7 linked regions of the Homo sapiens genome follow. The protein of the gene in region 6 purifies or fractionates together with the protein of the main gene of each other region. This does not show direct contact. Each region holds a gene or a part of one and is shown on either strand. Other genes may lie near its edges. The genes, in order: CASP3, NUDT21, CTNNA1, NCOA5, PRRC2A, SLC25A22 and WDTC1.

Region 1 (2,626 bases), on a different chromosome or scaffold from region 6:
GTAATATATTTTCATTACAGAAATATTGGAAGAAATTTAAAACCACCCACAACCCCACTTTCCTATATTCCTTTTCTAAGCATATGAAGTAAAAAGACAGCAAATTCCTCTGTCAAAATCCCAGCGCCCAGAGGAGGCCATCAGTAAACATCAACGGCTTGTTGTATATCCTCTTAGGTTGTTCTTCCCATTAGACACTTATCTTGTGGAAAAAGTTTCAAATTCACACATATGGTCATATTTAAGGCCTGAGATCTATGCAAACAAAGTATCTTCCTGGCATTGTGGTCATTTCAGGGTCAGGAACTTCTGCGAGGACTTGGGAAGCATAAGCGATCTGTCTGCCCTGATCTAACTGCCACCACCTCAAAAAACTAGGCTAGGGTTCTGGTGCTTCCTCTTTGACTCTTCCAAATCAAGCTTCTGATTAAAAACATTTTAACTTCCAATTAGTGGCACAACATCAAAAACAACAGCAACAAAAAACTCAAAGACATTGGTAATTTTAAGTTTGAATGTATATTTTGAAATAAAAATGGAAAATAACAAATTTGTACAAAATTGTCACATAGAAACACACTTTAAGATACCATTACATGCTATGTGTATTTACAAAAGTTACAGGTCTAGTAAGAAAAAAGAAACTGTCATTGACAAATGCGAGCTCATTTTTTGAGCAACAAGAAATCTCCCGTGAAATGTCATACTGACAGCCAGTGAGACTTGGTGCAGTGACGGCTCCGCACCTGCTGAGGCCTGGAGCCTGCCTCCCGGGCTGAGGGCTCAGCTCTGGCCTCCGGCTGGATGCCGTCTAGAGTCCTATGTGCTCATAGGTCTTTTTCTTTCAGTAAACAGTATAAAACATTACTATTTTCCTTTGATTGTAAACTTCAACAGAAAATAACATACTTAAGAATTTTGCTACAAAGAGTACTATGATTTTTATTGCCTCACCACCTTTAGAACATTTCCACTTCACAAGTTTCTGATTTGCTTCACTTTCTTACTTGGCGATGGCGCCCTGGCAGCATCATCCACACATACCAGTGCGTATGGAGAAATGGGCTGTAGGCCCTTCCTGCGTGGTCCATGGCTCTGCCTTCATGGAACAGGCTGAGTCATGTCTCTGCTCAGGCTCAAACCATCTACTCTCAAGTTACAGGCAGCTCAGCCCATTCATTTATTGCTTTCCTTATATTCCACTGTTTATTATTTAAGTTGTATTTTCATATGTTCCTATAGAATTTATTCACATTACCTGGCTAATAATCAACAGTTTGGGGTTTTTATATAATAGCTCTTCAGATATATTGCTGGTATATGAAGCTCAACTGATATGCATAGGGACAAATCAGAAGATATTTATGCTGGTAGATCCAGGGGCATTGTAGCACCTTACAGTTAAAACTCCACCCCTCTATGAATGTTAAGTTTTAGCCTTAAAAGTCAAGTTAGTTTGCTCACACTTTCTCTCACATAAAATATTAGTTTCTTTCTCAATATTAAACATTATTATTATTTTTTTACAACAAAAGTGTTCAGGACAAACATCACAAAACCATAATCCCAGATAAATGGTCTAAAAATGCAGTTAAGTCATCCGTGTATATCAATTCTAAAATAAAGGTTTGAGCCTTTGACCATGCCCACAGATGCCTAAGTTCTTCCACATCATCATTTCTACAGTTTGACAAAACTAGAATACACAGTCTTAAGTGGGGGGAATATCATAAAAATTCATTACTTCAATGTTTAACTTTTTCACAATTACTTGAAAATTCATAGCACAGCATCACTGTAACTTGCTAATCATGAAAGCTGTAAATTAACAATCATTGCCTCTCATAATGACTGCACCAGTATCCATTTTTATTTATTCCTAATTTAATTCAATTGCAACTACCTGACTGGAAGTTTGAGGTAGCTTCATAGTGGTTCTATTTGATGGAAGGAGTATGTCTTAAAGTACCCTCTGCAGCATGAGAGTAGGTCAAAATGAGAGGGAAATACAGTACCAAATATACCATCTTCTCACTTGGCATACAAACTAAAAAAAACCACCAACCAACCATTTCTTTAGTGATAAAAATAGAGTTCTTTTGTGAGCATGGAAACAATACATGGAATCTGTTTCTTTGCATGAAAAGTAGCGTCAAAGGAAAAGGACTCAAATTCTGTTGCCACCTTTCGGTTAACCCGGGTAAGAATGTGCATAAATTCAAGCTTGTCGGCATACTGTTTCAGCATGGCACAAAGCGACTGGATGAACCAGGAGCCATCCTTTGAATTTCGCCAAGAATAATAACCTAAAAGGCAAAATACAAGCAAAATACCATGGATAGCTGATTTTAGTTGATTCTATAAATTATTATGTAGTCATAAAGGCAAAAATAAGCATAAACTTACATAAGTCTTATTAGTCATACAAATAAAAAAAAAAAGACACCTTTGGTTTCAGAAGAAATGATGCTGAAGGACGAATGTGTGCTATGCGTACACCCCCTGCTTTCAGCAAAGCTGGCCGGGGACCAGCTTCACGAACACTGAATTATTGAAAGTTTTACTTTCTGGACTCCCCTTTCAATAGGCAAGAAGAGCAAACACGCAGAAGGTAAGATGCAAAAGT
Region 2 (3,500 bases), on a different chromosome or scaffold from region 6:
GGATGCTAAGGAATTAAGTCATTCTTCTGAAAAATGTTAAGTAAAGGAATAGCAGCATATTTTTTTTTTCTACACAAACCACACACTTCAGTAATACATAAGTTTCTTTTTATATGAGGATCACAACCCTTATGAATTCATAGACCAGGAAATGATCATCAATGAGCTGCTAACATTACAACAAGAAACAACCAAATATTTTTAAATTCCTGATGGAAGTACACTATACCAATTGTGATAGACTGCCTTAAGATGACCCCCAATGATTCCTGTCTCCTGGTATTCACTGCTTTGTGTAGTCCCTCCTATAGCGTACCAGGGTTGGCTTGTGTGACCAATAGCACACAGCAGAAGTGATGGTATGCCACTGCCAAGATTAGGTTATCACAGACTGAGGCTTCCTACTTGGGCACTCCTCTAGCACTCTGTCTCTCACTATCTCTTGGATCACACAGCCTTGGGTAAGCCAGCTGCCTGAGAGTTGTCCTTTTAGAGATGTTCTCATGGCAAGGAACTGAGGGAGACCTTGAGACAACAGCCAGCAACACCTGAAGCAAAGCTTTAGTCTAACAGCCCAGATGAAACTAAGAAGTTTGCTAACACACACACGTGTAAGCTCGGGATCAGATACTTTAACCCCAGTTCCACCTTATGATGCAGTCCCAGCTGACAACTTGACTGTAACTTCATGACAGAGCCTAAGCCAGAACCACCCTAAGCAACTCCCAGAGGCCTAAAGGCTGCTAAATTTTGAGGTAATTTGTTATGCAGGTATAGATTATATACCGCCTATGACAAGCCTTGTTACCCCTCCCCAAATTAACTGAGCCTGAATACAATTTCTAGATCTAACTATCAATTTGCAAGACACACAGGGGAAACAGCTACATATTCAACAACAACAGGGGAATGCAATCGAAATGGAAACATTAGCCTGTTTTCATTAACAAATAAAACACAAGGAAAAAAAAAAGGTGCCAAGTGTGTAAAAGAGACTTTAGAGACTATCCTAATCCAAACAAATTATAAAAAGAAAATAGAAATAATCAGGATACGCGAACAGTGACTATATATTTGACAATAATATGGAATTGTTTATTTTTAGTATGATAATAACAGTACTATAGTTATCTTTTTAAAGAGATCCTTATTTTTATGATTCACACTGAAATATTTACAATTGAAATGAATAGCTAGGATACACTTCAAAATAATCCAAGATGAGGGTAGGAGAATGAAGCGGTGGAATGAGGGGTTGTGATGTGCTAACTGTTAAAGGCAGACGACGGGTAGCGCAATTCATTCACTTTTACCATTCTCTCTTCTTTTGTATTTGTTCTATTTATTTATTTATTTTTTGAGAAGGAGTCTCACTGTTGTCCAGGCTGGAGTGCAATGGCACAATCTCGGTTCACTGCAACTTCTGCCTCCCAGGTTCAAGCAATTCTCCTGCCTCAGCCTCCGGAGTAGCTGGGATTACAGGCTTGTACCATCAAACCCAGCTGATTTTTACATTTTTTAGTAGAGACGAGCTTTCACCATGTTGGCCAGGCTGGTCTCAAACTCCTGACCTCAACAGGTGATCCACCCGCCTCGGCCTCCTGAAGTGCTGGGATTACAGGCATGAGCCACCTCGCCCGGCCTTGTATTTGTTTTACATTTTCCTTTAAAATAAGAAGTGCTTGGCTTAATTTTGTAATTTAAATTAAGGAGGGAAGAAAAGAAAATTTCAAGTCAAATTCTACTTTAATCTTTTTTAAAGTGGCTAGAATTAAACGAGCTTTCTGCTTCCAAAATGCCCAGCAAATGTAACTGAACACTGACCTGAGGAGGTTCAAAATTTGGTCTCCACCAGTTACCAATGCAATCGTCAATGACCCAGTCTTGCAAAACTCCATCCTGACGACCCAGTATCTGTCAAAAAGAAATAAGCCAGTAAACAACTAAATATATGTACTCACAAATCCCCTTCTTCAGTGAACAGAAAATTCTTAGCAGTGCTCCTAATTGAAACATAGGGATAATATGCCTTCCATACAGATTTTCTATGATTTGTTAATATAGATGTCACTCTGCCCAAGACATACAATATTAGTTCAAAACTGGCAAGCTAGTATCAACATAAAAATTGTGTTCAAAATTCAGCTTTCATTTTTATTAATTTGTATAGCAGAACACTAAACTTATTTTAACCAAAGTCATACTCTACATATTTTAAGTGGCCAAAAATAGTTCTACAATGTTCATGGTGAGAAACTGCAGTTCTCTGTCCTGCTTCACCCATTCCCACTGGCTGTAACTTTCAACTCTTGGTTGTTTTTCCCCTCATGTTTTCTTCTATTTTTAAAAGCATTCTTCTTGGTCTTAAATAAACGGTTTATTTTAGGATAGTTTTAGATTTACAGAAAACTTGCAAAACTTGTTCAGAGACTTCTCATATACCCCACACAGTTTCCCCGACTGTTAACATCTCACACTAGTAAAGCACATTTGTCAAACTAATCAACCAATACCAAGACAAGATTATTAACTGAAGTCCATATATTATTCAGATATCCATAGTCTTTAACCTAATGTCCTTTTTCATTTTTCAGTCCCAGGATCCCATCTAAGATACCATATTACACTTAATCTTCATTTCTTCCGAGGTTCCTCTACATTGTGACAGCTTTTCATACCTTCCTTGTGTTTGATGATCTTGATAGCTTTGAGGAATACTGGTCAAGTATTTTGTAAAACATCCCTCAATTAAATTGAAGTTATGAGCTTTTGGGAAGAAAACTACAGAGGTAAAAGGGCCATTCTCATCACGTCATATCAAAGGTACATGCTATATCAATATGGCTTATCACTAATGGGCTGAGGTACTGTTTATCACGTTTCTTCAATGTAAAGTCATATTTTTCAAAAAAAAAATTTTTTTTTGAGACGGAGTTTTGCTCATTGCCCAGGCTGGAGTGCAATGGCGCAATATCGGCTCACTGCAACCTCCACCTCCCAGGTTCAAGTGATTCTCCTGTCTCAGCCTCCGGAGTAGGTGGGATTACAGGCACATGCTACCATGCCCAGCTAATTTTTTGTCTTTTTAGTAGAGATGGGGTTTCACCCTGTTGGTCAGGCTGGTCTCGAACTCCTGACCTCAGATGATCTGCCCACCTCACTCTCCCAAAGTGCTGGGCTTACAGGCATGAGCCACTGCACCGGGCCTCAAAACTACATTTTTTAAGAGATAGGGTCTTGCTCTGTCACTCAGGCTGGAGCACAGCGACGCAATCATGGCTCACTACAACTCCTGGCCTCAAGCAATCTTCCGGCCTCAGCCCCACAAAGCACTGGGATTACAGGTGTGAGCCACCATGCCCAGCCAAAATATTCTTTTATGACAGTTTCTTGATTTTCATTTTATTTTATTTTATTTTTTTGAGACAGAGTCTCGCTCTGTTGCCCAGGCTGGAGTGCAGTGCCGCAATCTTGGCTCACTGCAACCTCCACCACCCAGG
Region 3 (3,500 bases), on a different chromosome or scaffold from region 6:
GCAGAGACGCTCCTCACTTCCCAGACGGGGTGGCGGCCGGGCAGAGGCTGCAATCTCGGCACTTTGGGAGGCCAAGGCAGGCGGCTGGGAGGTGGAGGTTGTAGCGAGCCGAGATCACGCCACTGCACTCCAGCCTGGGCACCATTGAGCACTGAGTGAACCAGACTCCGTCTGCAATCCCGGCACCTCTGGAGGCCGAGGCTGGCGGATCACTCGCGGTTAGGAGCTGGAGACCAGCCCGGCTAACACAGTGAAACCCCGTCTCCACCAAAAAAATACAAAAACCAGTCAGGCATGGCGGTGCGCGCCTGCAATCACAGGCACTCGGCAGGCTGAGGCAGGAGAATCAGGCAGGGAGGCTGCAGCGAGCTGAGATGGCAGCAGTACAGTCCAGCTTCAGCTCGGCATCAGTGGGAGACCGTGGAAAGAGAGGGAGAGGGAGACCGTGGGGAGAGGGAGAGGGAGAGGAGGGAGAGGGAGAGGAGGGAGAGGGGGAGGAGGGAGAGGGGGAGGAGGGAGAGGGGGAGGAGGGAGAGGGGGAGGGGAAATGTTTCTTAATCTGTCTTTTTTTTTTTTTTTTTTTTTTTAAACAGAGTCTTGCTCTGTGGCCCAGGCAGGAGTGCAGTGGCACCATCTCCACTCACTGCAAGTTCTGCTCCCCCAGGTTCATGCCATTCTCCTGCCTCAGCCTCCCGAGTAGCTGGGACTACAGGCGACCGCCACCACGCCCGGCTAATTTTTTGGTATTTTTAGTAGAGACGGGGTTTCACAGTGTTGACCAGGATGGTTTCGATCTCCTGAACTCGTGATCCACCCGCCTTGGCCTCCCAAAGTGCTGGGATTACAGACGTGAGCCTCCGCGCCCGGCTGCTTTGACATTTTTCAAGACTACAGCCAGTTATTTTGTAGATCGTCTCACGCTTTGAATTTGATGTTGCCTCATGACTAGTTGAGGTTATGTAATTTTCAGGCGAAATAACACAGAGGTGATGTTGTATCCTTCTCAGTGCATCGTGTTAGGAGATACGTGATGTGGGTTTGTGTCCTTATTAGGGACAGTAATTTTGATTACTTGGTTAAGGTGGCATCTCAGGTTTCTGGACTGTGAAGTTACTATTTCCCCCATCTGTCATAAATAAATAATCTGTTGGGAGTTACTATGACACTAGATCACGCTACTGAGAAACTGAATGCTAATCTACTTGGTTAGCATTCTTTGATTCTTGCCTGAGGCAATTAATATTATGGTTCCTGAATGCTGATTTTTCTAAATACATTGTTCTTTCTACATTTATTAGTTTGTTTCCTATTGTTTGGAAGAACTTTTCCTTCTTTATTCATATTAGCATGGACTCATGCATTAGTCAATGGATCATACTTTGTTCTATCTAATCTCCACTAAAGCTCTCTGAAGAAGGCAGTGGTTGGTAGTCTTTTATGAGGGATCTAGTTCAAAGTTACGTTTTTTTTTTGAGATGGAATCTTGCTCTGTTGCCTAGGCTGGAGTGCAGTGGCATGATCTCGGCTCATTGCAACCTCTGCCTCCCAGGTTCCAGCGATTCTCCTGGCTCAGCCTCATGAGTAGCTGCGATCACAAGCAACCGCCACTACGCCTGGCTAATTTTTGTATTTTTAGTAGAGAGAGGGTTTCACCACATTGGCCAGGCTGGTCTCGAACTCCTGACCTCAGGTGATCCACCCACTTTGGCCTCCCTAAGTGCTGGAATTACAAGCATGAACCACCATGCCTGGCCAGTTTTCACCCAGTAGTTTTGACATTCATTGCTAATCCTTGGCTGGATCAGTTTTTACCAGTGGGGGTTGCAAGATGGTCATTTTCTAATTCTATTCTAGATTCATGGTAAAGAAATTCCCTCCCCATACCCTTTCTTTTGAGGATCCCTATGGTCTTAAGGATATTTATTTAATTATTTAGTTACAGACAGTTACAGTCATTATTCTCTTTGATAGTTGTCCTAAATTTGGCTGATGGGAGCCCTTGCTTCCTGTGTCTTTTGATATGATCTTGTTAGTCTTGTCCCCTTTCCGCACAATACAGTGCTTCAGACCTGGAACTTTGGTTTCTATTAATGGGAAATGGTCCGTTTTTTAAAAAAAAAATAAGTAGAAATGGGATCTCTCTGTGTGGCCCAGGCTGGTCTCAAACTCCTGGGCTTAAGTGATCCTCCTGCCTTGGCCTTCCAAAGTGCTGGTATCACAGGCATGAACCACCATGCAAATGGTATTTAATAGAAATAAATACTTGGGCACTGATAACACTGGTTTTTTTTTGTTTTTGTTTTTTTTTTGAGACAAGAGCTTGCTCTGTTGCCCAGGCTGGAGTGCAGTGGTGCGATCTTGGCTCACTGCAACCTCCACCTCCCAGGTTCAAGTGGTTTTCCTGCCTCAGCCTCCTGAGCAGCTGGGATTACGGGCGTGTACCACCACACTGGACTAATTTTTGTAGTTTTAATAGAGACGGGGTTTCACTATGTTGGCCAGGCTGGTTGTTTTGTTTTTTAATTTGCCAACATTGTTTTTAAGAGTAACATTGTAGCCCGTTGTGTCATTGTTACATAATTTATTGAGTGATCTGTTGTTTGAAATTTAGGTAATTTATAACTTTTAATGTTTATATAAAGCAGTGTTGTGAACATCATTGTATCCCAGTTTTTACATGTTCCTTAACTTTAGAATAAGATTTTAGCAGTAGATTTTCTGGGTCATACAAATGTACTTTTTAAAGATTTTATTTTATTTATTTATTTTATTTTTTATTTTTTTGAGACGGAGTCTTGCTCTTTCGCCCAGGCCGGACTGCAGTGGCGCTATCTCTGCTACTGCAAGCTCCGTCTCTGGGGTTCACGCCATTTTCCTGCCTCAGCCTCCCGAGTAGCTGGGACTACAGGTGCCCGCCACTGCGCCTGGCTAATTTTTTTTTTGTATTTTTAGTAGAGACTGGGTTTCACCGTGTTAGGCAGGATGGTCTCAATCTCCTGACCTCATGATCTGCCCGCCTCAGCCTCCCAAAGTGCTGGGATTACAGGCGTGAGCCACTGCGCCTGGCCAAGATTTTATTTTTTTAATTTTTATTATTATTATTATTTTTTAAGATGGAGTTTTTTTCTTGTTGCCCAGGCTGGAGTGCAATGGCACAATCTCGGCTCACTGCAGCCTCTGCCTCCCGGGTTCAAGCGATTCTTCTGCCTCAGCCTCCCGAGTAGCTGGGATTACAGGCGTGCACCACCAGCCTGGCTAATTTTGTATTTTTAGTAGAGACAGGGTTTATCCTTGTTGGTCAGGCTGGTGTCGAACTCCCGACCTCAGGTGATCTGCCCGCCTTGGCTTCCCAAAGTGCTGGGATTACAGGAGTGAGCCACCACGCCCAGCCTTTAAGCTTTTAAATGTCTACCAGCAGTTTGTTGTCTAGAAAGTTTATATTAGTGTTTACCTCAGCTTCATGCCTTTTCTTTTCTTTTTTTCTTTAATAATTGAAGGCA
Region 4 (3,500 bases), on a different chromosome or scaffold from region 6:
CTGATCATACTTTATCTCTTAAGATATACCAATAGGGCAGACATAAATTGCAAAGAGTAGGTGAGACGGGCAAGTAATTAATCTGGAAGGGGCAAATCATTTAACTGAGGGTGAACACTGGGTACCTCCTTTGGGTGCATGCTTCCAGTCAAAGCCTTGAGATAACTCCAAATGTATCAATAGTTGACAACAACAAACTGCCTTTATTTGGCAGCCCTAATCATTTTGTATGCCCCCAGCCACAGGGGGTGCATCATTCACAGGGGAAAAAAAACACTACCTATGGCAAATATTTCCTAAAGTTATACCTCTACATTTTTAGCGCTTTCTACGTTTAATAAGAATATTGGTATAAGCATACTGGCAAGACCTTTATAACACCTTGTTTTGCTGGACTTAACGTAGGTATCTTTGGGAGTTTTACAGGATTATCACCTCTTCAGATGTTTCAGTAAACCACAGTTCTGCTGGCTTTGCTCTCTATTCAATAATATGACTCCCTGATGACTCCAGCTGTCAGTGTGTAATTCTGACAATATTGGCCCAGCCAAGCACAGAACTCTGCATGAGGAATCTCTGCTCTGGATCACATTTCAGCCTGAATTCTTATCATCTAACTCTTGAGGGCCACTTCATTGAACTCCTGTGAGTACCTTGCATAGTTACCATGCAAGTTGTCAAGCATCGATACTAAGCATTAGTCCTTCTTCAAAGACAGGATCATGATTCCAGTTGTGCCTTAGATATCTCAGTTACCATCTTCAGCTCAACACCTTGACAGTCCAGATCTTGTAGCATATCTTTATGCAGATGTGGCCTCTAGGTACAAGAAGTAAGACTGTACTTCTGAATGACTTAAAGAAGAACAAATAGAATTAACTTGTCTGCATCCAACGCTCTGCAGAGGATTTTTCCCCATATATTTGTGAAAGATGTTAAACCTGGTATCTCTTTGGTGAAAGTCATTGGGTATCGGCTCATCAGAAATAACCTGGCTGTAGACAAGTTTCTTATATGACCTGAAATGCTTTCTGCTTATCCACAGGGCCCTAATGCTTTTGATTATTGCTTGCTCCCTGGTTGTGAGACAGCCCTTGCTCTAGGTGGGCCACAAAGAAATTCCAGGTTGTGATTACCTCTGCAGTAACACTTGAAGAAGTCATCAGTTCTCAGCAGCTGCCACCTCTACCAATAAGAAAGTTCTGTTTGTGCTGGAGAAGGTTGTCAGTGCTTCCTAAGGAAAAGCATGGACATGTGTAAAATTTGGGTCTGTGAGGTGTGATATCTCATTGCACGTCCATATCCTACCTCCACCTAATGGCAATATTCTGGACAAGTCTGTTGTCTCCATTTCTAACAGTAGCATGAAGCCCTCCTGGTGGAGGATCAACATCATACAGCAGCCAGCCATTTAGATGATGATATTTGTGGACAGTATATCTGTGACAGAAGTTTGAAGAGCTAATGAAGGATTTTTCAGGGTCAGAAAGAGGCTGGCCCTCCCAAGGAAGACATTCCGGTGAACAGAAAGGAAGAAAGGAGATGCTGACCTTTGCAGAAAAGAAAGAAAAAGACAGGGGTCTTCCTCCCTGACCGTCTGTAGAACCAAAGCCAAAGAAAACCATCTTGGATGTGAAGTTTCAGTCTCTTGCCAAAGAGAAATTCAAAGTCCATCACAGTTTTCCAAGATGATCATCTATCAGTTCTTACTCTGTAGGCTGTCACATGCCTGGTGCTCTGCACACCCCTTTAGTCCTCAGGAAGAGACACATTCTACCAGAAGCTCATCACTTGCCACCAGAGCCATTGTTTTCCCCTTCACCCCTTTCGCCCTTACGTCTCAAATGTTTCCCAGCAGTGTGACTATATTCCCCTCAAGGCAAAGAGTATTTGCCTTTTTCCCCCTCCTGAATAGATGAGGAATTTACAGCAGAATTTTAGTTGTGTTTGCCACCTGCCTTCAGTTTGTGGACTCCAGTGCTGAAATTTAACCACTGTTCAGTTTCTTTTTATCCTCTAGTGATGTAGTACCTGAGGGTATGCTGCATTTGGTTCCTTTAGTAAAACACCTCTGGTGCTGTGGGATGATATTGTTAACCTTATTATGCTCCAGAAACCTGATTCTAACCCACTTATCATCTGAGGTCCAGCGTCTCCCACAGGAAGCTTTGTCTTCTTGCACTTTGATTCGTGCATACTACTGCCCTTTTGTTAGCTGTAGTCTTGTTTTGAAAAATATGTTGGGGCCAGCAGCAGGAGCCCTTTTGTTCTGAGGAGTTCTTTGTTTGGGTCCTAAAGCAACCCTAAAGGGTTTTTTGTTTTGTTTTCGTCTCCAGAAGAACAGCAGTCTACCATAGTGTTTATCTTTTGGAGAAAGGAAAAAAGGCTTTGCCTTTCCTTTTGAGAAAATTATTATCTTCTTTGTCCCTACTTCCACCATGCCTTTGGTTCTTTTTCCTTTTGTGAATATCACCTCTTCTACATTTTTACCCTGAAGGCACTTGAGAGGGAATTAGTAGTTTTGTTGCACATGGACTTCAAATTATTTGAGGGAAAGGGTGGGGCTTGCCCTCTCAGACTGGAAGATTGAACCCAGACTTTGCGAATCTAGAGTTTTAGTCAACTTGCAGGGATGGACTTTGACAGGTAAGTAAGGTTTTTCAGTGGATTCAAAAGAATGAGGACCAATCATAACATAACACTTATAATACTCCGAAGGTGGTAAATAACATGCTATGACATGCCCCACCCCGATTTCCACCAGCCCAAGGCTTTGTGTGTGGTCTGTGGTCTGTCAGGATCATGATATCTCAGCCCTGATTGCCAAGAACACTTGAAATTGGATTCCACCTCTAATGACTACTTCTAACTGCTCCCCAAGGCAGGTTTATCTGCCGATCATTAATCCAAAAATACTTTGCAGTTGTCCTTTCTCTTTGGATCTTGAGTGTTTGCCCACATTACATGCTACATCAGATGTTACATGTTAGGAAGATTATATGATGTAATAAGGAAGGTTGAAGTAAGAATCTTGGTTAGTCTTTACTTTATTCTAATAAGAAAAATAATGCTTAGCTATTCTCATTTAAAGTCCCTGGTCTATGATATGTTTGCTCTCACAAGTCAGGAATGCTGGTGAACCTTAGAATATATAACAAATATTTTTCATGGAAGCAAAATTGGCATTTAAATTGTTTTTGCTGTGCCCGTGTAGCTGAGGTGAGGTTTTCCACAAGCTGATGACATCATGATGAATACCTAACGTGTGTAACCATGGTAGACGACAAAAGTATGAGCAAAACATGCTGCCTGCTCTTGAGAGGCTTACAGTTTAGTAGAATAATTCAATTCATTAAACATTTACTGAACTCCTATGGTGTATCCTAGAGCTACAAAGCCTTCAAGAGAACTTCTTATTTGGTAGGGAAGCCACGTAAACAATTACAGAACAGTGTGGTAAGTGCGGTTATAGAAGTTTGTACTGGAGCAAGATTCATTCA
Region 5 (3,500 bases), on a different chromosome or scaffold from region 6:
CCTACCCAGGCCAACTTTGGATCCACCGGTGGAGTGCCCCGTTCCCGTAACATAGCAGGTGCATGACGGTCAAATGGCTCTGAGCTTGAGCCCCCACTGTCTGAACGCTCTCGGGGAACTAGGCCTGAAGAAACCAAAGAAAAAGAAAAATAATCCTATTCATGTCACAAGCCCTCCAGCCCAAAAAGCATCTCCCCTCGCGGTCAAGTCAGCTCTTCCATCTCTTGTTCCCAGTAGGTCCGGGCCTTGCCTGCTCTTATATAACAAGGTTATCCACTCAGATTCCCTACAAGAGAATCAACCCACCCCAAATAAATCCTGGCAAATGAAGGACCACTGCTTCTTTCATTCATTCATTCATTTTTGAGATGGAGTTGTGCTATTCATTCATTCATTTTTGAGACGGAGTTTCGCTCGTTGCCTAAGCTGGAGTGCGATGGCACAATCTCGGCTCACTACAACCTCCACCTCCTGGGTTCAAGCGTTTCTCCTGCCTCAGTCTCCCGAGTAGCTGGGACTACAGGCGAGCGCCACCACGCCGGCTACTTTTTTGTATTTTTAGTAGAAATGGGGTTTTACCACGTTAGCCATGGTGGTCTCGAACTCCTGAACTCAGTTGATCTGCCCACCTCGGCCTCCCTAAGTGCTGGGATTACAGGCGTGAGCCACAATGCCTGGCCAACCACTGCTTATTTCTTAACTAAGCCCATTTTTGCAACAGAGCTATCTCAGCAGTGCCAAGCATATGCCCTTCCCTCATCACTATGATGGGCAAAACCTATCGTACCAGAGTCACAGTAAGACCCTAATATCCAATGCCTAAGACTGAGGGGACTTTCCTGTTTCTCACTCCTCCCATGCCCCCTTACCAGAGGGATGCACACCAGGAGGGTAGAAGTCTAGAGGGGGACGACCCTGGAGGAGCCGGGGGTCCACATAAGGAGGAATCATCATCCATCGGGGATCAAAGTTCATTGGGGGCATGGGTGGGGGCCGGCCCAGAGCACCTGGGTACAGGGCCTTGGGGGGCGGGGGTGGAGCCTGTGGAGCTGGCACAGCCCCCAGGGTCACAGGCTGTGGTGGTGATGGGGGCACTGGGGTAGGAGGGGCAGAGCCCTGTTGATGCTGCTGCCACTGGTGCTGCTGCTGCTGCTTCAGGAGCTGCTCCTAGGAAAGGAGGAAAGACAAGATGAGAGAGGCTCAAAGCACACATGGACAAAGGAATCAGCAAAGAAAAAACTTGGACTAGGGGAAATTGGCGTGACAATGGAGACAACTGGACAAAGAAGCAAAGGGACCCAGAAGGTAACTTATGAAGAGAATTAGGGACCGAAGCCAGGAAGAAAAGCAGCCCTTAGAGGGTAAACAACTTGATTTCACCTGCTGCTGCCGCTGGAAACGAGGAGGCAACGACTTCTGATATTTGGGGTAGCCCAAGCCCTGACTAGGGGGCTGGCGGGTGGGACCAATCCCATCACCCTTGGGTTCCACCTTTGGAACTGGGGGTGTGGTAGGAGGAGGAACCTCTTCTGGTGGTTCAGGACCCTCTTTTGAGGGCAGTTGTGGTTCCACTGCATCGGAAAAAACACAACAGAGTGATCTAGTCCAACAATAGACACTCCATGAACACCCCAGGAATCTCACGTCTCATCTCTAGCTCCCTTAAGACTAAAATATTCTATTCAACATCTATTCTATTGAAGCCCCTCCCATTTAAGACCCATTAAAGCACTTCATGGCCTCTCATGAGCCTATGGTGGTGGCATTAACTTTCTATGAAACCATTAGAACAACAGTACTTTCTTCAGTCTTGGCCTATAGGAAATAGTTTTCATTTTTATTTATGTATTTCTTGTGAGACAGGATTTTTTTTTGAGACAGAGTCTTGCTCTGTCACCCAGGCTGGAGTGCAATGGCATGGTCTTGGCTCACAGAAATCTCTGCCTCCCGGGTTAAAGCGATTCTACTACCTCAGCCTCCCAAGCAGCTGGGACTACAAGCACATGCCACCACACTTGGCTAATTTTTGTATTTTTAGTAGAGACGGGTTTCACTATGTTGGCCAGGCTGATCTTGAACTCCTGACCTCATGTTCTGCCCGCCTCGGCCTCCCAGAGTGCTGGGATTACAAGTGTGAGCCACCATGCCTGGCCGACAGGGTCTTGCTTTGTTGCCCAGGCTGGTCTCAAACTCCCTAGGCTCAAGCGATCCTCCACCCCAAGCCTCCCTAAGTGTTGGGATTATAGGCGTGAGCTACAGTACTCTGCCAAGAAATGGTATTAGACTACAACCTAAGATTCCAGACAAAACCTTCCCTCCTTCAGATATACAAATGATAGAACACTATCACTGATAGTCCAATAAACCAAAACAACTGCCTTCTACTTCATTTATCCCCAGCCTTACCACCCTGCACCTTTAAGCACCTTGAAGCAGTGATCTGACATCTGGTAGTACCTATCCCCATCTCCATACCTGGGCTGGCTTCGAAGCTGCCACTGCTGGTGCTACTGGTACTGCCACCACCACTCACCAGAGTGGGAGCCGCAGCCACACCTGGAGTAGGAGTAGATTGGGCAGGAGGGGCCTGTGCTGGCTCTTCAGGTTCTGTCTCTGGTGTTGGGGCTGATGCTGGAGGTGGAGCTGGAGGTGCAGGGAGTTCTTTAGGGACTGCAGGTGGTGGAGCTGGGGTAGAAGGGGCAGCAGGTGGGGCAGCAGGCTCTGCTTTGAGCCGCTTGTCAGGTGCCCCAAACTTTTCATCGAGTCGCTTGAGCTTCTCAGCACAGGCTGCCCGGCGCTCTTCTTGCATGCGCCGCTCCTCTTCTTCTCGCCGTCGCCGGGCCCGCTCCACTGCCAGGGAAATCTCAGATGACGACTGCTTTCGTCGCTGCCGCCATGCCTCATCCTCATCTTCAGGTGCTGGGGGCTTGCAGGGAGGACCCCCACGATCCTGTCAATTGGCAAGACCCAGCAGGGCCAGGGGAATCAGTTACTATGCTTTCTATCATCTCTTTTACAACAAATCAACTGTCGCTACTTGCAGGATGCAACGACCCAGGCTTTGGGGTTGATCTCTCTGGGTGGTGACAAACTCATTATCCTGGTCTTCTTTGAGACCACGTCTTGCTATGTTGCCCAGGCTGGTCTTGAACTTGGGCTCAAGTGATCCTTCTGCTTCAGCCTGCTGAGTAGCTTGGACTACTGATGCATACTAACAGATCCAGCTATCTAGCCACCCTAGTCTTTTTATTTTTCTGTTCCCTCTCTCCTTCCGAAACCCAAACACCCAGGGCTCCTTTTTCTTCTTTCCTCATTAGCATCCCAGTTTCTCACTTCTTACCCAGACTCCCCTATTACCAAAGATATTTAAAAGCTTCCCAGGATGTTCTGCAGCCTGGCACTTCACACAGCCCATTTTTAGCACCCCCCTTCCTCTATATCACAACCGCTTCAATTACTCAGCTGACACCAATTTCCCACAGCTGACCCTCTCAATCCCT
Region 6 (2,653 bases):
CGGCTTCAGTCTGGGGTGGTGGGTGAGGGGCTGCGTGAGAGAGGGAGGCTGGGGGAGGATTACTCTTCGGGTGGCCCCACCCTCACTCATTCCCATTCCCTCATCCTTCTAGGACAGAAGTGGCGGTTGCTGACGCCTGGAAATTCCCCTGAAGGTGGAGCACCACCCAACCCCCCTGGGTCCCACCCTCCCTCAAGGCCTCCTCCACCTCCACCTCCACCCCGCCTGGCCTGGCGTCCACCTCTGCGGCTCCTACCTGGGTGCAATCGAGTTAAATGGCTGATAAGCAGATCAGGTCAGACTCCAGTCCTGGCTGCGTGCCTCACCCCCACCCTGACCCATGGTCAAGGAAGCCGGTCCTGACACCCCTGTCCACACAGCCTGCCAGCCAAGCTCATCAATGGCGGCATCGCCGGGCTGATCGGTGTCACCTGCGTGTTTCCCATCGACCTGGCCAAGACCAGGCTGCAGAACCAGCAGAACGGCCAGCGCGTGTACACGAGCATGTGAGTGTGCCGGGCGGTCGCGGGGAGTGGGCCCAGCATGTGGCAGCAGGAGAGGTGGGGGCTCTGCTCCTGTGCCCCCCACCCTGTTTGACAGAAGGGAAACGGGAGGCAGGCGGGCCTAGGGGAGATCCCACGTGGGTCAGGACTGGGGTCGGGGCTGGGCTGAGGACTTGGCCTCTTCTATCAGCCCTAGACAGTCCAGGGACCCTGGCCTCCGGCTGGCCCCAGCTGGCCCTGGCTCACCCTGTCCCCTTGGCCACAGGTCCGACTGCCTCATCAAGACCGTCCGCTCCGAGGGCTACTTCGGCATGTACCGGGGTGAGGTTTGGCTCGGCTGGGCTCGATATGGGCAGGCCTGGGTAGCGCCCGCGAGTCGTGGCAGGGAGCGGTGGGGGAGGCAGGGCAGGGCGGCCAGCCTGGGCCTGGTGTGTGAGCGTGGACGTGTTTGTGGGGGCTGTGCCTGTGCAGGGGGGACTGGATCTCTGGTGAGTGGTAGTTCTCAGCCTCTCCCGTGGCAGCTCCCCACCCCCACTTAGTGCCTGGTGCGTGGGATGCCATGGTACATCTGTCTCTTCTCTGGTGGCCACAGCTGCCTCTGCCTTCTGGGCCAGGCTGGACCCCGTTTGTGGCTGGGGATGGGAGGGAGTAAGGGGCATTACCGCAAAGCAGCTTAGGACACAATCCAGAGCCTAGATTTGGCAGAAGCTCTCCAGCCCTGAGCCTTCGGCACTGAGATGGGGGCTCTCCACAGCCTCCCCCGAGCTCTGGCCCAGTCCAGACCACACACTCCTGTGACCTCTGGCCCCAGCCCCCTGCCAGCACAAGCACCATCTGTCCTCCAGGGAGGGAGAGGTATCCTAGGGAGGCCTCAGGGGCTCCGGGGCAGTCCTCATGCCCTGAGCAGCAAGATGCTGCCCAGAATCAGAGACAGATGGAGCTGCAGTGGGCATGGGAGAGCCTGAGCCTGAGGTGCTGCCCCATCCCTGCCTGGCCCCGCCCCACCTGGCACACACCAGGCCCAAATGTGGGTGAGAGAACAGATGGTGGCCAGGAGTGACTGGGACAGGGTTTTGCCAGCCAGGAGGCAAGTCCTGGCCAAGCGCCTCCCCACTCAGGCCACCGAGCATGTCCCCCCAGCTGACCCCCTGCCCCACAGGAGCTGCTGTGAACTTGACCCTCGTCACCCCCGAGAAGGCCATCAAGCTGGCAGCCAACGACTTCTTCCGACATCAGCTCTCTAAGGACGGGTGAGGGTTCTGCCTGGCAGACACTCGAGGGGTCTTTGGCTTCAGATAAAGGATGGGTCCACCCTGCCAGCTGGGTCCCACCTGGGGGCTCTGCCTGTCTTCAGCCCCTTGCTTGGGGCTTCTTTGACCTCGTGGGGCACCCTCCCTCCTTTCCCCTGACCAGGGGAGCAAAGCAGATGTCAAATCAGTGGGGCTCTGGCTTGGTAGCCCTTGGCCTGAGGGCACTGACCAGCTCCCCCATCACTGGAGGGGGACTGCAAGGGCAGCCCCTTTTTGGGGCACTTGACCCCCAATTTCCCATTTTCCTTTGTCGCAGACAGCCCCACTGCCCTCCCCAGGCCCCTGCCTGTGGGGCCGTCTGTCCATCGGTCTCCTCCCTGCCTGCTGCTGCAGTGGCGGAGGCTGGGGGCTGTACCCCCACAGGCCTGCATCTGCCTCCACGGCTCCCACCATCCTCTGCGCCCAGGCATGGTGGGCAGCCCCGAGGGTGGCAGGTAGACCTGTCTCTTCCCACTTACTGCGGCCCCGCCCCTACCACAGGCAGAAGCTGACCCTGCTTAAAGAGATGCTGGCGGGCTGTGGGGCTGGCACCTGCCAGGTGATCGTGACCACGCCCATGGAGATGCTGAAGATCCAGCTGCAGGATGCAGGGCGCATTGGTGAGGGCGGGGGGAGGGGGAGGAGAGGGCAGAGGTGCGGGAAGAGGTGAGGGCGAGGGGAGGGTGGGGACGCAGGGAGGGCCAGAGCGTGTCCCCTGCCCAGTTCGCACAGAAGAGGAGACAGCAGCCTCTTTGTCCCCAGCCGCCCAGAGGAAGATCCTGGCTGCCCAGGGCCAGCTCTCGGCCCAGGGGGGTGCCCAGCCCTCAGTGGAGGCTCCAGCTGCCCCTCGGCCCACGGCCA
Region 7 (3,500 bases), on a different chromosome or scaffold from region 6:
AACTCAGGTCTGAGAGTGCTGTGGGGGTTCTGAGTGTTATAAGAACTAGCAGGAAATATTATATACAGTGATTTCTTTAAGAAAGACACTATAAGAGATTTATATAAGAAATTATAAGAATAAATAAATATAAGGAAATCATAAGGAATTTATGTAAGAGATTATGGGTAATTTATACTTTTTTTTTTTTTTTTTTAATTGAGACTGAGTCTCACTCTGCCACCCAGGCTGGAGTGCAGTGGCAGGATCTCTGCTCACTGCAAGCTCCGCCTCCCAGGTTGACGCCATTCTCCTGCCTCAGCCTCCCCAGTAGCTGGGACTACAGGCACCCGCCACCACGCCCGGCTAATTTTTTGTATTTTTAGTAGAGACGGGGTTTCACCGTGTTAGCCAGGATGGTCTCGATCTCCTGACCTCGTGATCCGCCTGCCTCGGCCTCCCAAAGTGCTGGGATTACAGGCGTGAGCCACCACGCCCGGCCTAATTTATACTTTTCATATTTTCCAACATAAGCGAGGATTAAGTTTTTTAAAAAATCACAAAATTGAAGAAAGTCCATTTCATAAAGAAGAAGGGGCCAGGCTGGGTGTGGTGGCTGACGTCTGTAATCCCAACACTTTGGGAGGCCGAGGCGGGCAGATCACCTGAGGTCAGGAGTTCAAGACTAGCCTGGTCAACATGGTGAAACCCCGTCTCTACTAATAATACAAAAATTAGCCAGGTGTGGTGGCAGGTGCCTGTAATCCCAGCTACTCGGCAGGACAACAGCTTGAACCCGGGAGGCAGAGGTTGCAGTGAGCTGAGATTGTGCCACTGCGCTCCAACACGGGTGACAGAGCAAGACTCTGTCTCAAAAAAAAAAAAAAAAAAAAAAGTAAAACAATAAATAAATAAATAAAAGAAGGGGCCAGGCACAGTGGCTCATGCTTGTAGTCCCAGCACTTTGGGAGGTCGAGGTGGAAAGATTGCTTTAGCTCGAGTTTGAGACCAGCCTGGGCAACAAGGAAAGACCCCGCCCCTATAAAAAAATTAAAAAATTAGCCAAGCGAGGTGGCGTGTGACTGTAGTCTCAGCTACTTGAGAGGCTGAGATGGGAGGATCGCTTGAGCCTGGGAGGTTGAGGCTGCAGTGAGCTGTGATAGAAGAAGAGGGCATGGCAATGGCAGTGAGGGAAAGGGGCAGTAGGTTCTCTGGGGACTTACTCACAGGAGACAGGAGGCTGAACTATTCATACCTGTGGTTATGGATCATGCGGATGTCATAGAGCCTCACGAAGGGCCCGCTGGCCCCAACTGCCAGGCAGTTGTTGTCCTGGGGGTTGACAGTGAGGCACTTGGCCTCCACCAGCTGGCCACAGTACTCTGTCAGGTCAATCAGCACCTCCGAGTGTTTGCTGTTCTCTCGAAGGTCATACTGGCTGTGAGAGAGGACAGAGTTAGGGAATTGGGGCTTGGGGTCCTTGAGAGGAAGGCAGGGGAAAAGATAAGTTCTTGTTATGCAAGAGGATTGGGAGGGACTTTGGACCTGTTTCTAAATAAGAATGTCAAAAACAACTCCCATTTCTTGAGTGTCCACAGTGTGCCAGGTACCTGTAGTAGGCTTCTCACACATTCTATTCTACTAGAACTCCTAAGGTGGATACTATTGTACATATTCTACAGATGTTAGTATTATTGCTACTATTATACTACTACTGATTACCAACACTTAGTGAAAATGTGCTTTATGTCCAGTATTGCCCCTTAATTAATTCCTAACGCCATCCCTAGGTATCATTAGAATACTGAAGTTCAAAGATGTTGAATAACCTGACTGAGATGACACTGCTAGTAAGTGCAGAGCTGGGGAAGCTTTCTGAGACTGCATCTTAAACACTGCTCCGTTCCTACCTAATCTAGTTTCTTTCATGAAACAAGGTATGGAGGTGACAGAAAAGAGACTCTGCAGATCATCTAAGAGCTATCTAGATATACCATGGGCCAAGGCAAGCCTAAAAGTCTCATCCACGCAGTAAAGGTAATGCCAAAAAGTCTACCAAACAGCAGCAAACTCCCACCGCTCCAGACGGGGAAACTTTGTGCTGCCAATACACAGGTATCCTCAGAGAGTGGTGGGTAGGGGGGACATCACCTATATGCTCTCCCCTCTTGCCTAGACATCTGTTATCACCTCTTTGCTGTTCACCTTGTCTTTCTAAGCCATCTTCACCAGGCTGCTCTTCCTAAAATATTATTTTACATCACTCTCCTGCTCAAAAAAATTGCAGAGATTCCTCAATACTTTTAGCACAAGTTTACTTTTACCAAACTCCTCAGTCTGGTTTTCAAGACTCAATTTCACATTTCTCTCCAACCTTATTCCTCAGTTTTCTAAATGTGGGTCAATTATAACTACAGAATTCTTTATCCTGCACATGCCATGTTTATTTCTGCCTTTGCAAACTCTGCTCAAGCTGGGGAATACACTCTGCTTTTCCTTGCTCATCCAAATCCTGTCTGTTCTGGAAGGCCCAGCTTATGTTCACCTTCTGCTAGGACACCTTCTCTGACTGTGCCTATGCCTAAACACTTAGGATCCTACCCAATGCGCTAGACGCTCCGCTTCTACCAGCTGGCCCTGGCAAAATCTGGTCAGCCAAGGTCAAAAAGTGCTACACAGAGTTGGACCTGCCACTGACAAAGTGCATTCTGTCTTCTGAGGTTCAGGGATGCAGTGACTTACCCCAGTCAAATACTGAGTGCGATTGCTAGGATTTGACCCCAGGTCTGTCTGACTTCACTGCCTTGCTCTTGACTATGTTATAATTTATATATGACTTAGATATTCCTCATCTGTAAAAGGAAAGAGGGCACAAAGTCCTACAGGAACTCAAGGGAGACAGATTAAAGCAGGCTGGGGAGATAAGAAAGAAGTTCTAAGGTCACAGCTGAAGAAAGGAGTTAAAGAAGGGCAACGACACCATTTTAGAATGAAGGGAAGTAGAGGCAAATGTGTAACAATGCAGGGCACTGGAAAAGGGGACAGTCCATTTTACCATTTCCGGGTGGCTTGCCCCCTCCCAGGTATATAGCCACTGACCAACTGTTCAAGAGAAATGTATCAAGCGGCTCTATGTGCCAGGCGCTGTGCTGGGCTCTAGGGATACAACCAAGAACAAGACAGACATGGAGTTGCTCTAAGAGAGTTTACTTTTACTATTTAGTGAGGATACAGACAAAAAAGTAAACCAATAAGTAAAAATAAAATAAGGCCAGGTGTGGTAGCTCACACCAGCAATCATAGCACTGTGGGAGGCCGAGGTGGGAGGATCACTTGAGCCCAGGAGTTTGAGACCTGCCTGGGCAACACAGAGAAACCCCATCTCTACAAAAAAAATAGAAAAATTAGCCAAGCATGGTGGAGCGTGTCTGTAGTCCCAGGTATTCAGGAGGCTGAGGTGGGAGAATCGCCTGAGCCCAGGAAGTCAAGGCTGCAGTGAGCCATGATCACGCCACTGCACT

Evidence for each region.
Region 1: the proteins of SLC25A22 (region 6) and CASP3 purify together in Homo sapiens (co-immunoprecipitation; one large-scale study listed by IntAct). This does not show direct contact.
Region 2: the proteins of SLC25A22 (region 6) and NUDT21 purify together in Homo sapiens (affinity purification with mass spectrometry; one large-scale study listed by BioGRID and IntAct). This does not show direct contact.
Region 3: the proteins of SLC25A22 (region 6) and CTNNA1 purify together in Homo sapiens (co-immunoprecipitation; one large-scale study listed by IntAct). This does not show direct contact.
Region 4: the proteins of SLC25A22 (region 6) and NCOA5 purify together in Homo sapiens (affinity purification with mass spectrometry; one large-scale study listed by BioGRID and IntAct). This does not show direct contact.
Region 5: the proteins of SLC25A22 (region 6) and PRRC2A purify together in Homo sapiens (affinity purification with mass spectrometry; one large-scale study listed by BioGRID and IntAct). This does not show direct contact.
Region 7: the proteins of SLC25A22 (region 6) and WDTC1 purify together in Homo sapiens (affinity purification with mass spectrometry; 3 studies listed by BioGRID and IntAct, with this or other methods). This does not show direct contact.

Annotation. Positions count from the first base shown.
Region 1 is NC_000004.12:184,627,196-184,629,821, forward strand, and holds the end of CASP3 (caspase-3 isoform a preproprotein), read right to left. Parts: intron 2,307-2,626; coding exon 2,077-2,306; 3' UTR 501-2,076; downstream 1-500. UniProt on the Homo sapiens protein: Thiol protease that acts as a major effector caspase involved in the execution phase of apoptosis. Following cleavage and activation by initiator caspases (CASP8, CASP9 and/or CASP10), mediates execution of apoptosis by catalyzing cleavage of many proteins.
Region 2 is NC_000016.10:56,437,833-56,441,332, forward strand, and holds part of NUDT21 (cleavage and polyadenylation specificity factor subunit 5), read right to left. Parts: intron 1,915-3,500; coding exon 1,825-1,914; intron 1-1,824. UniProt on the Homo sapiens protein: Component of the cleavage factor Im (CFIm) complex that functions as an activator of the pre-mRNA 3'-end cleavage and polyadenylation processing required for the maturation of pre-mRNA into functional mRNAs.
Region 3 is NC_000005.10:138,777,425-138,780,924, forward strand, and holds part of CTNNA1 (catenin alpha-1), read left to right. Parts: intron 1-3,500. UniProt on the Homo sapiens protein: Associates with the cytoplasmic domain of a variety of cadherins. The association of catenins to cadherins produces a complex which is linked to the actin filament network, and which seems to be of primary importance for cadherins cell-adhesion properties.
Region 4 is NC_000020.11:46,072,963-46,076,462, reverse strand, and holds part of NCOA5 (nuclear receptor coactivator 5), read left to right. Parts: intron 1-3,500. UniProt on the Homo sapiens protein: Nuclear receptor coregulator that can have both coactivator and corepressor functions.
Region 5 is NC_000006.12:31,627,215-31,630,714, reverse strand, and holds part of PRRC2A (protein PRRC2A), read right to left. Parts: intron 2,951-3,500; coding exon 2,476-2,950; intron 1,572-2,475; coding exon 1,381-1,571; intron 1,168-1,380; coding exon 870-1,167; intron 125-869; coding exon 1-124. UniProt on the Homo sapiens protein: May play a role in the regulation of pre-mRNA splicing.
Region 6 is NC_000011.10:792,629-795,281, reverse strand, and holds part of SLC25A22 (mitochondrial glutamate carrier 1), read left to right. Parts: exon of another isoform or gene 1-18; intron 19-112; 5' UTR 113-275; coding exon 276-295; intron 296-380; coding exon 381-506; intron 507-693; coding exon of another isoform or gene 694-768; coding exon 769-824; exon of another isoform or gene 825-829; intron 830-1,662; coding exon 1,663-1,753; intron 1,754-2,293; coding exon 2,294-2,412; intron 2,413-2,515; coding exon of another isoform or gene 2,516-2,554; coding exon 2,555-2,653. UniProt on the Homo sapiens protein: Mitochondrial glutamate/H(+) symporter. Responsible for the transport of glutamate from the cytosol into the mitochondrial matrix with the concomitant import of a proton. Plays a role in the control of glucose-stimulated insulin secretion.
Region 7 is NC_000001.11:27,290,132-27,293,631, reverse strand, and holds part of WDTC1 (WD and tetratricopeptide repeats protein 1), read right to left. Parts: intron 1,418-3,500; coding exon 1,235-1,417; intron 1-1,234. UniProt on the Homo sapiens protein: May function as a substrate receptor for CUL4-DDB1 E3 ubiquitin-protein ligase complex.